Homo sapiens: one gene and its partner. The protein of the gene in region 1 interacts with the protein of each later gene in a biochemical or structural test. Each region holds a gene or a part of one and is shown on either strand. Other genes may lie near its edges.

What was found. The genes of interacting proteins can lie anywhere in the genome.
Region 2: the proteins of VCP (region 1) and ATXN3 form a complex in vitro, tested with the Homo sapiens proteins (5 studies listed by BioGRID and IntAct, with this or other methods).

Annotation. Positions count from the first base shown.
Region 1 is NC_000009.12:35,055,625-35,062,715, reverse strand, and holds the end of VCP (transitional endoplasmic reticulum ATPase), read left to right. Parts: intron 1-365; coding exon 366-499; intron 500-577; coding exon 578-713; intron 714-1,026; coding exon 1,027-1,139; intron 1,140-1,536; coding exon 1,537-1,701; intron 1,702-1,792; coding exon 1,793-1,915; intron 1,916-2,190; coding exon 2,191-2,403; intron 2,404-2,914; coding exon 2,915-3,223; intron 3,224-3,496; coding exon 3,497-3,652; intron 3,653-5,185; coding exon 5,186-5,340; intron 5,341-5,493; coding exon 5,494-5,599; 3' UTR 5,600-6,652; downstream 6,653-7,091. UniProt on the Homo sapiens protein: Necessary for the fragmentation of Golgi stacks during mitosis and for their reassembly after mitosis. Involved in the formation of the transitional endoplasmic reticulum (tER).
Region 2 is NC_000014.9:92,103,583-92,111,348, forward strand, and holds the start of ATXN3 (ataxin-3 reference isoform), read right to left. Parts: upstream 3,001-7,766; 5' UTR 2,971-3,000; coding exon 2,947-2,970; intron 1-2,946. UniProt on the Homo sapiens protein: Deubiquitinating enzyme involved in protein homeostasis maintenance, transcription, cytoskeleton regulation, myogenesis and degradation of misfolded chaperone substrates.

The DNA.
Region 1 (7,091 bases):
AATGGTTAGTGATTTGAGAGGGTTTGGGGCAAATGAACTTTGATCACTGGCTCTTGGAGAATGCTGTTTAGTGGTGTGCCATCTGGTGTGCCATCTCTCTTGCTCTAGCCAGAGGTCCTAGAGCATTTGCTGTCACCTTTACAGTTCAACTGTGAGAAGAGTATAGTGAGTCCCTGGGCTTCTCTCCAGCCTTGCCTGGTGGCTGTCCTGGGATAATGGCTGGTAGAGGATGTGAGAAGTAGGCAGAGGTTACCACCTTCTCACCCAGGACCTGTCTCTGGGCCAAACAAGCAAGATAACTGATTTTTGGGAGGAATTGGGAAAGACTATCATTTTGTTATTGTCTCCATTCTGTATCCTTTCAGGTCCTGAGATCATGAGCAAATTGGCTGGTGAGTCTGAGAGCAACCTTCGTAAAGCCTTTGAGGAGGCTGAGAAGAATGCTCCTGCCATCATCTTCATTGATGAGCTAGATGCCATCGCTCCCAAAAGAGAGAAAGTAGGAGCTTACCTGAGGGGATAGAGGGGGGTTGAAAGGCCCTGACTTCACTTCTGACCAGACATCCTGTTCTGGCAGACTCATGGCGAGGTGGAGCGGCGCATTGTATCACAGTTGTTGACCCTCATGGATGGCCTAAAGCAGAGGGCACATGTGATTGTTATGGCAGCAACCAACAGACCCAACAGCATTGACCCAGCTCTACGGCGATTTGGTAAGGACTCCAGATACTTTTGACCCCGTCCTTGCTTAGGTCCTACTTCTCTCCTTCATCTAAGTCACCTAATCCTCTTGAAGCCCTTCACAGTGATTGGGTCCAGGGGTCTTTTTCCTTTACCCTACGTCCTGTCTAGAGTGACCAACCACCCTGGTTTTCCTGAGACTGAAAGGTTTCCCAGAGCTTGAGACTTTTTTAGTGCTGGCATTAGGACAATCCTGTGCTGGCTGAGATGGTTGGTCACCCTAGGCCTGTCTCTTACCTCTGGACTAGAGATGAGCCCTGTTTATGTTTGTGTACTGTCCCACAGGTCGCTTTGACAGGGAGGTAGATATTGGAATTCCTGATGCTACAGGACGCTTAGAGATTCTTCAGATCCATACCAAGAACATGAAGCTGGCAGATGATGTGGACCTGGAACAGGTGAAGTGATGATGATGGCTGACCAGGCGTTACAGTGTCTCTAGGCAGTTGCTGGGAACTGGCTAGAGACATAAGGTTAAGATGTGAGGAGATGGGTTTTGATTTCTGGACAGGGGAAAGGAAGTAATCTGAGATTGAATCCAGGAAATGGGAGTTGGCATTTTTCATAGTTGACGCTGCATTTAGAGTAAATCAGAATTGTTGGAGCAGCCTTATTTCTAGGTCCCAAGTCCAGAATTAAGTACTTAAAACCCAGCCCATAAAGGTATTGATAGTATATATTCAAGGAAATGAGAGGACCCAGGGATAGCAGTCAGGGGAAGGATTCTATTGTCTCTGAGCCTCCTGCAGCAGCTGGGTCTTTGAGGCAGCATAGTAAGTAGATCTTTCTCTGCAGGTAGCCAATGAGACTCACGGGCATGTGGGTGCTGACTTAGCAGCCCTGTGCTCAGAGGCTGCTCTGCAAGCCATCCGCAAGAAGATGGATCTCATTGACCTAGAGGATGAGACCATTGATGCCGAGGTCATGAACTCTCTAGCAGTTACTATGGATGACTTCCGGGTAAGGACCACACCCGTGCCTCAGGTACACACATACGTGCTTTGACCCCTCCCTTGATAAGTCTCATCCCCAGTTTTCCCTCCTTTTCTAGTGGGCCTTGAGCCAGAGTAACCCATCAGCACTGCGGGAAACCGTGGTAGAGGTGCCACAGGTAACCTGGGAAGACATCGGGGGCCTAGAGGATGTCAAACGTGAGCTACAGGAGCTGGTCCAGGTAGGGCAACTTGGTCCAGGGTGAGTCACTGTCTCAGTACATTGTAATTGATCTGGGTGATCTCAGGGTGTCAACACATTTGCTGCAAGAGTTGTGAGAGCACGACTTAGGAACCTACTGTTCTTAGGTTTGAGGCACTAAGGAGTCTTCTTCTAGAGAACCTGGATCTGATACCATTGGGTACACCATGAAATAATGGAGGGGATGCTTCTGTTTAGTTAGGTTTCTTTCAAAATGTGGAGGTAGCCTTGAACCCTCTTTCCTTTTCCTCCTAGTATCCTGTGGAGCACCCAGACAAATTCCTGAAGTTTGGCATGACACCTTCCAAGGGAGTTCTGTTCTATGGACCTCCTGGCTGTGGGAAAACTTTGTTGGCCAAAGCCATTGCTAATGAATGCCAGGCCAACTTCATCTCCATCAAGGGTCCTGAGCTGCTCACCATGTGGTTTGGGGAGTCTGAGGCCAATGTCAGAGAAATCTTTGACAAGGTGAGCTACAATAGGCTGAACTATGTATTGATTTGCCTGAGGGCAAGGAATAGAGGCTGTTTTTCTTTAAGAGGGTTGAAATATTCTTAGTGCTGGCTGCTCAACTGCACAGTAAGTCACTTGATTTTCTTTCTGAGGTCTGAGAGACCTAGTGTTATTTTTTTTTTCTCTCTCTCTCTCTTGAGACAGGGTCTGGCTCTGTTGCCCAGGTTGGAGGGCAGTGGTACAGTCATGGCTCACTGTAACCTTGAAACCTGGGCTTAAGCAATTCTCCTACTTCAGCCTCCTGAGTAGCTGGGACTATAGGCATGCGTCACCACATCTGGCTAATTTTTTATTTTTTGTAGAGACAAAGTCTCAGTATGTTGCCCATGCTGGTTTCGGATTTCTGGCCTCAAGTGATCCTCCCACCTTGGCCTCCCAAAGTGCTGGGAATACAGGTGTGAGCCACCACGTTTGCCTAGAGACATCTAGTTTTGTTAGTGCTTGAATCAATCCATTCCTCCTACAGGCCCGCCAAGCTGCCCCCTGTGTGCTATTCTTTGATGAGCTGGATTCGATTGCCAAGGCTCGTGGAGGTAACATTGGAGATGGTGGTGGGGCTGCTGACCGAGTCATCAACCAGATCCTGACAGAAATGGATGGCATGTCCACAAAAAAAAATGTGTTCATCATTGGCGCTACCAACCGGCCTGACATCATTGATCCTGCCATCCTCAGACCTGGCCGTCTTGATCAGCTCATCTACATCCCACTTCCTGATGAGAAGTCCCGTGTTGCCATCCTCAAGGCTAACCTGCGCAAGTCCCCAGTTGCCAAGGCAGGTGCAAGATCATGGGCTGTGGGAGACTTGCATGAGTCCTCAGGCTGGTACGGAGTGCTCTTTAGTTTCTGGACAAGATTCCACTGGGGTTAGGGTTGGTCTAAAGGGAAGGTAGAATTTTTGAGGATATCAAGATAATCTAGAATCAGGAATAAAATGGGGTGGCCAAAGAAGGGGCAAACTGTAGTTGGGAGTGCTCGGGTAGCCCAAAGATCTGCGTATCTCGAGAGGAGAGGCTAAATGCTAAGGTACCTCTGCTGCTGCTTTTAGGATGTGGACTTGGAGTTCCTGGCTAAAATGACTAATGGCTTCTCTGGAGCTGACCTGACAGAGATTTGCCAGCGTGCTTGCAAGCTGGCCATCCGTGAATCCATCGAGAGTGAGATTAGGCGAGAACGAGAGAGGCAGACAAACCCATCAGCCATGGTGAGTCTGCATCCTTTCCCCAGATGTGCCAATCATGGAGAGCCAGGCAGCAGCCACCACCATGCCCTGGAGTTGAGAGTAGAAGCTGTTGGAAAGATCATCTAACTGAGAAGAATTTTAATAGGGCATCAAAGATAAAGAATGCTGAGGTGAATCCATTCAATTTGGAATAAGGCCGAGAAGAGATGGTCAGGCTCCATTCTCAGTCTGAACCAAGCTCCATGAGGGAAATCAAAGTATGAGAGTGCAGCAAACACAGCAAGGTTTTTTTTGTTTTTTGTTTTTTGTTTTTTTTTTGAGACGAAGTCTCACTCTGTTGCCCAGACTGGAGTGCAGTGGCACGATCTTGGCTCACTGCAACTTCTGCCTCCCAGGTTCAAGCGATTCTCCTGCCTCAGCCTCCCGAGTAGCTGGGACTACAGGCACATGCCACCATGTCCGGCTAGTTTTTTGTATTTTTTTTTTAGTAGAAACGTGGTTTCACCACGTTAGCCAGGATGGTCTCGATCTCCTGACCTTGTGATGTGCCCACCTCGGCCTCCCAAAGTGCTGGGATTACAGGCGTGAACCACAGAGCAAGGTTTTGAGCTGAGATGAGACTCATATACTTATCCCTGATGGTTGGGGAAGGGATAGGGTCCACAGACCTCCCAAAATGAAAAGGCAAATTCATGTGTTTGTAAGTTCCATAAAGGTAAGATCTCTGTCATCTCACTTGTTTTCCACTATGTCTTGTGTTACCCTTAATTAATTCATTAAGTTCCAAACATGGGACTTAATGAGCAAATAAATGGCTTTCTTTCCCTTTTGAAGGGTCTGTGACATCCCTTCTCTCTCCCATAAAAGCTTAACAACTACTGATGAACTAATCCTAGGAGGTAGTCACATAAGTCACAGAAATTGGCCTCTCAATGGAAGAGATAGGTTTTGAGCTGGGCTGTGAAGAGAGTAGAATTTGAATAAAGGGAATAAGCAGCCCAAATAATGTGCTCTAGTAGTAGGATTGCAATCATTGGGAAACCCTGGGTAGATTTAAGAGTATATATGTCACTGGAAGTGAGACCGCTAGGTAGGATGTAATCCAAATGTGGTAAGCACTGAAAGCCATTGGCATTTCCTTTTAAAGTATTAAGGTTTATTAAGGTATGATATAAATACAATAAAATTCACTCTTTCTATATACCATTTCCATGCTTTATGACAAGTGTGTGTAAGTTCTATAACTACTACCACAGTTGAGACTTAAAATTTCTACTATCTCAAAAAGTTTCCTTAGCCACTTCAGTCAACATCTCCCCTCCTTAAGCCCCATCACTGATGTGATTTCTGTCCCTACAGTTTTCCCTTTTCCAGAGTGCATTGACAAGTTTTTAAGCAGAGCAGTGACTCAATTTTAGGAAGCATGGCCTAGCATCTTACCTCAGGTTGGATTGGAAGGGCAAGGAGACCAATAAACTGCAGTAATGGGAGGCCTGGGATGAAATCCAGGCTGGGCTTTAACTAGCCCTAGTGATCTGTGTTTACCAACTATAGGAGGTAGAAGAGGATGATCCAGTGCCTGAGATCCGTCGAGATCACTTTGAAGAAGCCATGCGCTTTGCGCGCCGTTCTGTCAGTGACAATGACATTCGGAAGTATGAGATGTTTGCCCAGACCCTTCAGCAGAGTCGGGGCTTTGGCAGCTTCAGGTAAGTTGGTTGGGAGCATTAGACAGTGCTTAAGTTACTTTGGGGACCTACACCAAAAGGGATGGGAGTCCTAAGGAAGCTAGAGGGGTAGTTGTGGAAATCTTACACAGGCCCTGTCCTAACCCTCTTTTTTGGCTTTGCTCTTGTACACAGATTCCCTTCAGGGAACCAGGGTGGAGCTGGCCCCAGTCAGGGCAGTGGAGGCGGCACAGGTGGCAGTGTATACACAGAAGACAATGATGATGACCTGTATGGCTAAGTGGTGGTGGCCAGCGTGCAGTGAGCTGGCCTGCCTGGACCTTGTTCCCTGGGGGTGGGGGCGCTTGCCCAGGAGAGGGACCAGGGGTGCGCCCACAGCCTGCTCCATTCTCCAGTCTGAACAGTTCAGCTACAGTCTGACTCTGGACAGGGGGTTTCTGTTGCAAAAATACAAAACAAAAGCGATAAAATAAAAGCGATTTTCATTTGGTAGGCGGAGAGTGAATTACCAACAGGGAATTGGGCCTTGGGCCTATGCCATTTCTGTTGTAGTTTGGGGCAGTGCAGGGGACCTGTGTGGGGTGTGAACCAAGGCACTACTGCCACCTGCCACAGTAAAGCATCTGCACTTGACTCAATGCTGCCCGAGCCCTCCCTTCCCCCTATCCAACCTGGGTAGGTGGGTAGGGGCCACAGTTGCTGGATGTTTATATAGAGAGTAGGTTGATTTATTTTACATGCTTTTGAGTTAATGTTGGAAAACTAATCACAAGCAGTTTCTAAACCAAAAAATGACATGTTGTAAAAGGACAATAAACGTTGGGTCAAAATGGAGCCTGAGTCCTGGGCCCTGTGCCTGCTTCTTTTCCTGGGAACAGCCTTGGGCTACCCACCACTCCCAAGGCATTCTTCCAAATGTGAAATCCTGGAAGTAAGATTGCACCTTCTTCCTCTCCTGATCAACATCGGTATGATGTCTCCTGTTGCCTCACCCTTTGTCTGCAGTATCACTGGATAGGACTGGTGGAAAGGGAGCAGCCTGACAGAGCTCCAAATGTGGAGAATATGGCATCCCTCCACCTATATTTGATGTGGACGGTAAGGCTAGGCCTGCAGGATCCCTTATCCTGACCAAAGACTGTGTTGGGGTGCCATTTGAAAATCGCAGGGTTGCAAAAGAATACAATCTTACTTGCAGGTGGATATTCTCTATACTCTCTTTTAATGCATCTAAAAATCCCAAACATCCCCTGGTTGGTGATCACTTACAGTTGTGTCCACCTTTATTTTATGTACTTTGATTAAAAAAAAAAAACTTTTTGTTAATATAAAATTTTAGTATTGAATTTTTTTTTTTTCCAAACAGAAAATAGACTATCCTCTTCAACAGTAATCACTTAGTGCTTCTAGGGTCAGTACAGTGATGCCTTACCCAGAGAGAGAGTAGTGCAGAGAAAATAAATTACTAAATTAAATATATGTTGATTGGCTTTGGGACATAATCTCAAAAGACAGTCCTGAACACCGTAATTTTGAATAAAATACTGTAATCTCCAAAGATCAAAATCCCTAAAGTCTAAAATTCTGAAAATCACAATCCCAAAAGGTCAAAATCCCAAAATACAATTCTGGAAGAAATACTAAACATTCTTCGAAAATTTACTTACATTTTTAAAAGCGTATTTATTTGAGAAACAACACAACAGAACGTTTCATAGGCCACTACACGATAAAATAGGGAATAGTAACATTTTTGCAAGATAAACACTCAG
Region 2 (7,766 bases), on another chromosome or scaffold:
ACGCCCAGCTAATTTTGTTCATTCTTGTAGAGACAGGTCTCACCACGCCCGGCCCCATTCAAATATTTATTGAGTACTTACTCTGTGCCAGGCCCTCTCTCAGGCACTGCAGATATATCAGTGAGAAACTGTTTTTACATTCTAACTTAATAAAGGGTACTCAAAGTGACTACTCAGAAAGAGGAAACCAAGGTTCCAAGAGGAAATGGTTGCAAGGCCCTTCGTAGGCAGATATTGCTACCTACACAGCTTCTTTAGGGCCAAAGTTGGTTCTCTGGCTCTCCAAACCCAGGACCTAGCAAGGGTTAAAGGTATATTGCAGAGGGGAAGGCAGTGAACGGAAAAATGGCACAGTAAGCCCAAACATTCCCAGAATGGACTGTATAGGAGATTAACAATTGGGCCATATGGTTATAGGTGCGTACTCTTGAGGACGCCCAAAAAACTAAATTGTTGAATCTTCACATGCTATGTAGATACAAGTTGATGATAATGGTAAAGGTATTCCTGAAGTATCTGTAGGCCTATACACATGCTGATAATTAAGAGGGACTCTTTTTTCCTTTTCTTTTTTTTGAGACGGAGTCTCGCTCTGTTGCCCAGGCTGAAGTGCAGTGGCACGGTCTCGGCTCACTGCAACCTCTGCCTCTCGGGTTCAAGCAATTCTCCTGCCTCAGCCTCCAGAGTACCTGGGATTACAGGCGCCTGCCACCACACCTGGCTAATTTTTTGTATTTTTAGTAGAGACGGGGTTTCACCATGTTGGCCAGGCTGGTCTCAAACTACTGACCTCATGATCCGCCCGTCTGGGCCTCCCAAAGCACTGGTGTGAGCCACTGCACCCAGACTAAGAGGGATTTCTTTCGGGTAAGTAGATTTTCACTAGGCTAGCACTCAGCTTTTTTTCATCCCATGGGTCAGTACAAATGTGTCCCAACTAGGTAACAATATTGTTAAAAATCTTGTCTAATTCTCAGGAAGTAGTGTGGAACATGTTTAAGGCCTTCCATGTTGAAATGTGGTCCCACACCAAAGCCTTTGAAAATTAATAACAAAAATATGGCCGGGTGCGGTGGCTCACGCCTGTAATCCCAGCACTTTGGGAGGCCGAGGCGGGCGGACCACCTGTCAGGAGTTGGAGACCAGCCTGGCCAACATGGTGAAACCCTGTCTCTACTAAAAATACAAAAATTAGCTGGGCGTGGTGGCGGGCGCCTGTAATCTCAGCTACTGGGGAGACTGAGGCAGGAGAATCGCTTGAACGGGGAGGCGGAGGTTGCAGTGAGCCATGATGGCGCCATTGCACTCCAGCCTGGGTGACAAGAGCCAAACTCCATCTCAAAAAAAAAAAAAAAAAAGTACGTGTGTATTTTTCACGCACTCTACTCAGCCAAGCAACCAAATCTCTATTGTCTATGATTTACGAGTCATGTCAATCAAGTCAAAAAATTAGTGACAACTATACGACTGAGTCCTTCCTCCCCCACTGAACATCAGCCTATTTCAAAAGTTTCCGAGATGTTTTCTACAATGAAAAGCATTGTACTTAACAATTTGTTCCAGGCACAGTGGCTCACGCCTGTAATCACAGCACTTCGAGAGGCCGAGGTGGGAGAATCACCTGAGTCCAGGAGTTCGAGACCAGCCTGGGCAACACAGCGAGACCCCGTCTCTCCCAAAAACATTACCTGGCCCTGGCGATATGCACCTGTAGTCCCAGCTACTCTGGAGGCAGAGGCGGGAGGATCGCTTGTGCCTAGGAGATCAAGGCTGCAGTGAGCCATGATCTCTCCATTGCACACCTGCCTGGGTGACAGAATGAGACCCCATCTTTAAAATAAAAATTAAAAAAAATTTATGCTACAGATTTACATTTGGTAAATGTATTCTTTTGTCTTTGCTTTATTTGTTGTGTGTGTGTGAATTTTAAATGTCTGGGATAAATGATCATTTATAAGTATTTAATAAAACAAAAACCCTTTGCTCCTCCTATTAAATAACAGCCTTACCAGCAACTCTTTCCAAACACGAAACTATTATGAAACATGATACCATGTGCCAAAGCTGTCCTGGGGAAGGCTTCACTCACACACAAATGGCTGGATAATAGTATGAGAGAAACGAGGAGTTTCTTTACATATCACAAACAGTATCTTCAAGTGCATGGTCACGGAAGAGTTAAAGGGACAGCAGGCTAGGCAGACTACAACAAAATCATCCCAGTCCACTCCTAATACCTAAAAACAAAGCTGGCCGCCTGCTCCGGAAAGATGGGAGTACCAAAAGAAACCAAACCCAAACATCCCGTAATAAAAACTCTTGTGACGACTTCCCTGTTTAGGGGCACGCCGGGTTTCCTACTTCACTTCCTAAATGTCAGGCCCTACAGTGGGCGAGCCAAGGTCTCCTCCCTCGGGAGGCTCGCGGACCTAGTGCAGGGGAAAGACACGAACAAGACCCCAAAGATCTACGTGTAGGGAAGACTCCAATATAGAATTGAGCAGTCCGGAGGAGGAAAAGTTAATTCTGCCAGGATTAGGGTAGGAGGGGTTGAGGGAGGTGTCCCAGAGATGACTCTAGCTAGACCCTAGGGAGAGGGAAGGATTGGGGAGGGGTGAAGGAATCCTCCGAAAAGCGATGGAAAGTGACGGAGAAAGGCAGAAGCAAACCCACTGGGCGCCACCCCACTCCCGTGTCCCGAGACGCCCCCGGCCCCGCCCATACTCCCTCCCGGCTCCCAGGGCGGGGGCCGCGGGGGAAGTAGGGGCGTAGGTGATGCTCCCCTCCTCGAGCCGAGGAGGCGGGAGGCTGCGGCGTCGCCCCTCGCCGGGCGAGATCGGCATGGGGGCGACTCGGGCCCCACCCAGCCCTCCGAGAGGCGGTGATGCCGCGCTCCACGCCCGCCACCGCGCGGCAGACAGCTCCCCACCGAACGCGGACACTCACTTTCTCGTGGAAGATGGACTCCATGTTTATTTGTCTGGAGCCAACGGCCCCCACGCCGAACCACCCCCTCCAGCTCCGCCCCCTGCCCCTCTCCTCCGCCCACCCCGCCCCTCCCCGGCCCGCCCCGGTACCCCGCCCACGTGCCGCACGCAGACCAATCACCCGTGAGGATGCGAGTGTCGTGAAGCGAAGAGCGAGTGAACGCCGGGGACACGTGACCTTGGTAGCGCGTCCTCCTAGCTTCTGTTAGCGGGCCTTCTGGGGGATGCTACATCGCCACCTGCTGTCTGGAGGATCTTCTCCGCTTCCCACCCATTTCTATGGATTCTTAGGTTTCTGGGGGGAGGTCTGGACCGCTCACCTGGGTTCTATGTTCTTTTTGTTTTCCACTTTGACTTTCTACTGTGTTCATATAACTATTTACTTTCTTTCTCCTCCTCCTGCACTGAAAGTTTAGTAAGAAAAAAGCCATCATTACATTCTCCCAAAACCCAGCACTTGTATAAAAATGATAGCTAGGCCGGGCGAGGTGCTTCACGCTTGTAATCCCAGCACTTTGGGAGGCCGAGGCGGGCGGATCACCTGAGGTCGGGAGTTTGAGATCAGCCTGACCAACATGGAGAAACCCCGTCTCCACTAAAAATACAAAATTACCCGGGCGTGGTGGTGCATGCCTGTAATCCCAGGTACTCGGGAGGCTGAGGCAGGAGAATCGCTTGAACCCGGGAGGCCGAGGTTGTGGTGAGCCGAGATCGTGCCATTGCACGCCAGCCTGGGCAACAAAAGCGAAACCCCTCCCCCACCACCCCAAAAAAGAAAAAAAATGATAGTTAATATTTACATAAGGCTTTCTATGAGCTAGGCACTTTTCTAAATGCTTTGCATATATTATCAAATTTAATACAGCAAACTTTGATGTAGGTGTTGATGTTATTCATACACATGAGGAAACCGAGGCACGGAGAGGTTAAGAACAGCACAATGTCCAAGGTCAGATAGTAAGTTGTCTTGCCAGGATTCAAATCCAGGTGGCTTGTTACCAGTGTAGGTGTTCGGACCCTTTAGAGGGAACTTAGAAGTCCCATAAATTGTGTGGGAGACGGGGAGGTAGCAGCGGTTTGATGAAACTTAAATGGAAGGATAGGTGCAGATCTTGCACCTTGAAACCAGATTAAGGTGTACTTTTTTTTTTTTTTTTTTTGAGACGGCCCTCTCTCTGTCCCCCAGGCTGGAGTGCAGTGGCACAATCTCCCCGCTCACTGCAACTTCTGCTTCCTGGGTTCAAGTGATTCTCTTGCCTCAGCCTCCCAAACAGCTGGGATTACAGGCGTGCACCACGAAGTCCAACTATTTTTGTATTCTTAGTAGAGAAGAGGTTGTACCATGTTGGCCAGGCTGGTCTCGAACCCCCAGCCTCAGGTGATCCACCTGCCTTGGCCTCCCAAAGTCCTGGAATTACAGGCGTGAGCCACCGCACCTGGCCAAAGTGTACCTTTTAAAGGATGTGGGGAGCTATATAAATATTTTAAAAGAAGACATGTGGTCATGTTTGCCTTTTAGAAAGATCACTGGCTGCAGAAAAAAGCAGTTGCTGTTGAAGGAATCTTGGGAGAGACGATGGTGGTTTAAGAGAGTGTCTTAAAGATGGAAATAGCCCATTTTGAGAGATTCTTTGGACGTAAAGAGACTCAACAGAATGTGGTGATGATACCGAGTGGAGGAATACTAGCCTTTTTCGTCTTGAGTCGAATTACATAAAACGACATGGACAAACGTGGAGTGGTTTTAAGGAGCGGAGAGTTTAATAAGCAAGAAGGAAGGGAGAAGAAAGAAAGAAGCAGCTCCCCTGTACAGAGACAGAGGGATGGGTGCTCCAAAGCTGAGAGAGGAGACCCAGAGTGCGTGGGAGATACCAGCCAGTTATAGGAGGAGGATGCAGGAGGCGGTGTCTGATTTGCATAGGGCTCAGGGGACTGGTTTGACCACGCATGTCATTCATGTAGCCCCCTAATAAAACTGGCCATTCCACCCTAGCCTTTTAATATGCAAATGCAGGGCGCTATGATGTTCTACTCATGTGGGGATATGTGGGGGTGGCCATGTTGCCAGGCACTTGTGAGAACAAGGGCAAGAGGACGATGGTGGGAATCACCGTGTTGGTGGACCCAGTTTCTAACTGCCGGCATTTGCATATCAAACGTTGCCAGCTCGGGTCTAAAAGTCAGGGCTTTTATGCTAGACAGGAAACGTCTCAGGAGCTGCTTCAAAAGAGACAAAAACTTTTCAAGGACCCCTTTTCCTCTCTATCTGCCTAAAATAATTTCTTAATAACTCCTACCACAATGAGGGATTGGGGAAGGTAGGAGACAGAAATGTGAAGGTGACTTCTGGGTTTGTGACCTGGGCAGCCACTGTGGCAGGAGTGGTATTGAGAGCAGAAACATGGGAGGAGCAGCAAGGTTTTGGGAAGAGAATAAGATAGAGTTTACATTTTGGAGATACTGAATTTGAAATATCTATGGACATTTGAGTAATTATGTTGAGTAATGGTTGGATACCGAGTCTGAAGTTCAGGAGGCTGCTTTGAACTCAATGAGGAATTGTCATTAAAAAACAGATAGCTAAGGCCATTGTGGTGGTGCATGCCTGTAATCCCAGCACTTTGGGAGGCTGAGGCAGGCAGATCTCTTGAGGCCAGGAGTTCAAGACCAGGCTGGCCAACATGGTGAAACCTCATCTCTACAAAAATACAAAAATTAGCCGGGCGTGGTGGCTCATGCCTATAATCCCAGCTACTCAGGAGGCTGAGGCAGGAGAATCACTTGAACCGGGAGGTAGAGGTTGCAGTGAGCCAAGATCGTGCTATTGCACTCCAGCCTGGACAACAGAGTGAAACTGTGTCTCAAAAAAAAAAAAAAAAAAAAGTAACTGAAACCATAGGAGTGAATAAAATCATTTTAGGGAAAAGGAAGTGATTGAGAAGAGGGCTAGAGCTGAGCCGTGAGGATAGGAGAAGCAATAACCAAGGAGGAGGGAGGAGAAGCAAGAGAGTGTGACATTGTGGAAGGCCTGGGCAGGGGATGCTTCAAGGGGTAGTCAGTGTCAGTTGCTGCCAAGAAGTCAAGCAATATAAGGTCGTATAAGAGCCCACTAAATTTTGTTGCTATGGAGACCATTGGTGACTTTGGGGACTGCAGGTTCAGAGAAGTAGAGGGGGCAGTGAGAGGTAAGAGAATGGAGACTGCCAGAGAGGACCAGGTGCTGAAGGAGAGGATTCGGTACCATTTATCGAGCATCTCTGTGTGCACGGTTCACAGCCTTGTATGGGGGAAAGTCCATGTTCTTAAGGATTTGTGTGGCCTACCCAGGGAAATAAATTATAGTCTCATGAAGTGAAAAAAATTGCAAACCACCTTTTCTGTTTTTGTTTTGTTTTTTTAAATTGTAGTTGATGTCTTTCAAATGAATTAATGAAGTCGAAGGTCTTAGTCTTTTTGGGGCGCTTTAACAAGATATCTTAGAGTAATTTATAAACAGAAGTTTATTACAGATCTGTAATAAATTTACAGGCTAGGAAGTCCAAGATCAAGGCTCTAACGGATTTAGTGTCTGGTGAGGGCCCATTCCTCATAGATGGTGCATTTTTTTGTCCTCACATGGTGGAAGGGGAAAAGGGGCAAACAAGCTTCCTCTCTGCATAAGGGCACTAATCTCAGTCACAAGGCTTGGCCTTATGATCTAATCATCTCCCAAAGGCCCCATCTGTTAAACCAACACACTGGAGACTACATTTCAACAAATGAATTTTGGAAAGATACAAACATTCAGATCATAGCACCAAGTATCTGGGAATCATTTTTTATTCTCTTCCCACAACTTCTCCACGTCACCCCTTATTCCAATCAGTCCTCAAATGCTATAAATCCACTCCTAACTCTCTCTTGCCCTTGTCTTCATTGCTACTACTTAGTTCAAGCCCTCTTGGTATCTTGTGTACTCTAGTCCAAGGATCTTTGAATTGGTCTTCTGATTCCAGTCTCAATATGTCTAATTCATGGTGCTGTCAGTGATCTTCCAAAAATGCAAATCTCACAAGATTTTCTTTTGTTTAACAAGAATAACTGCATATCAGGCCCTGGGACTATAACCATGAAAAACACAAACAGTCCCACCTTCAGGGGACTTACATTGGCAGGGATTCTTAAATGATTACACAACTCTGACTTCAAAATCCTTCAGTGATGGCCGGGTGCAATGGCTCATGCCTGTAATCCCAGTACTTTGGGAGGCCGAGGCGGGTGGATCACCTGAGGTCAGGAGTTCAAGACCAGCCTATCCAACATGGTGAAACCCCATCTCTACTAAAAATACAAAAATTAGCCGGGTGTTGTGGTGGGCACCTGTAATCCCAGCTACTTGGGAAGCTGAGGCAGAATTGCTTGAACCTGGGCGGCAGAGGTTGCAGTGAGATGAGATCGCAACAGTGCACTCCAGCCTGGGCAACAGAGTGAGACTCTGCCTCAAAAAAAAAAAAAAAAAAAAAAAATCCTTCAGTGACTTCCTATTGCCATCCTATTGCTGGCCTGAAAAGCTCTGTGATCTGGACCAACCACCTGTCCTGTTCTGTTCTCCCCAAATTCTCTCTGCCCCAGTCACTCCAGACTCTAGTCATACTAGCTTCTTCCTTTTACTTCTGGAAAGTTCACTAAGGAAAAGTATTTTGTGCCACCGCTACACCTTGAGCATGCCTACATTACAGCACCATTACATCATACTGGAAGTATTACTTTATATACTACTGAACTATCAGCTTTTGAGGG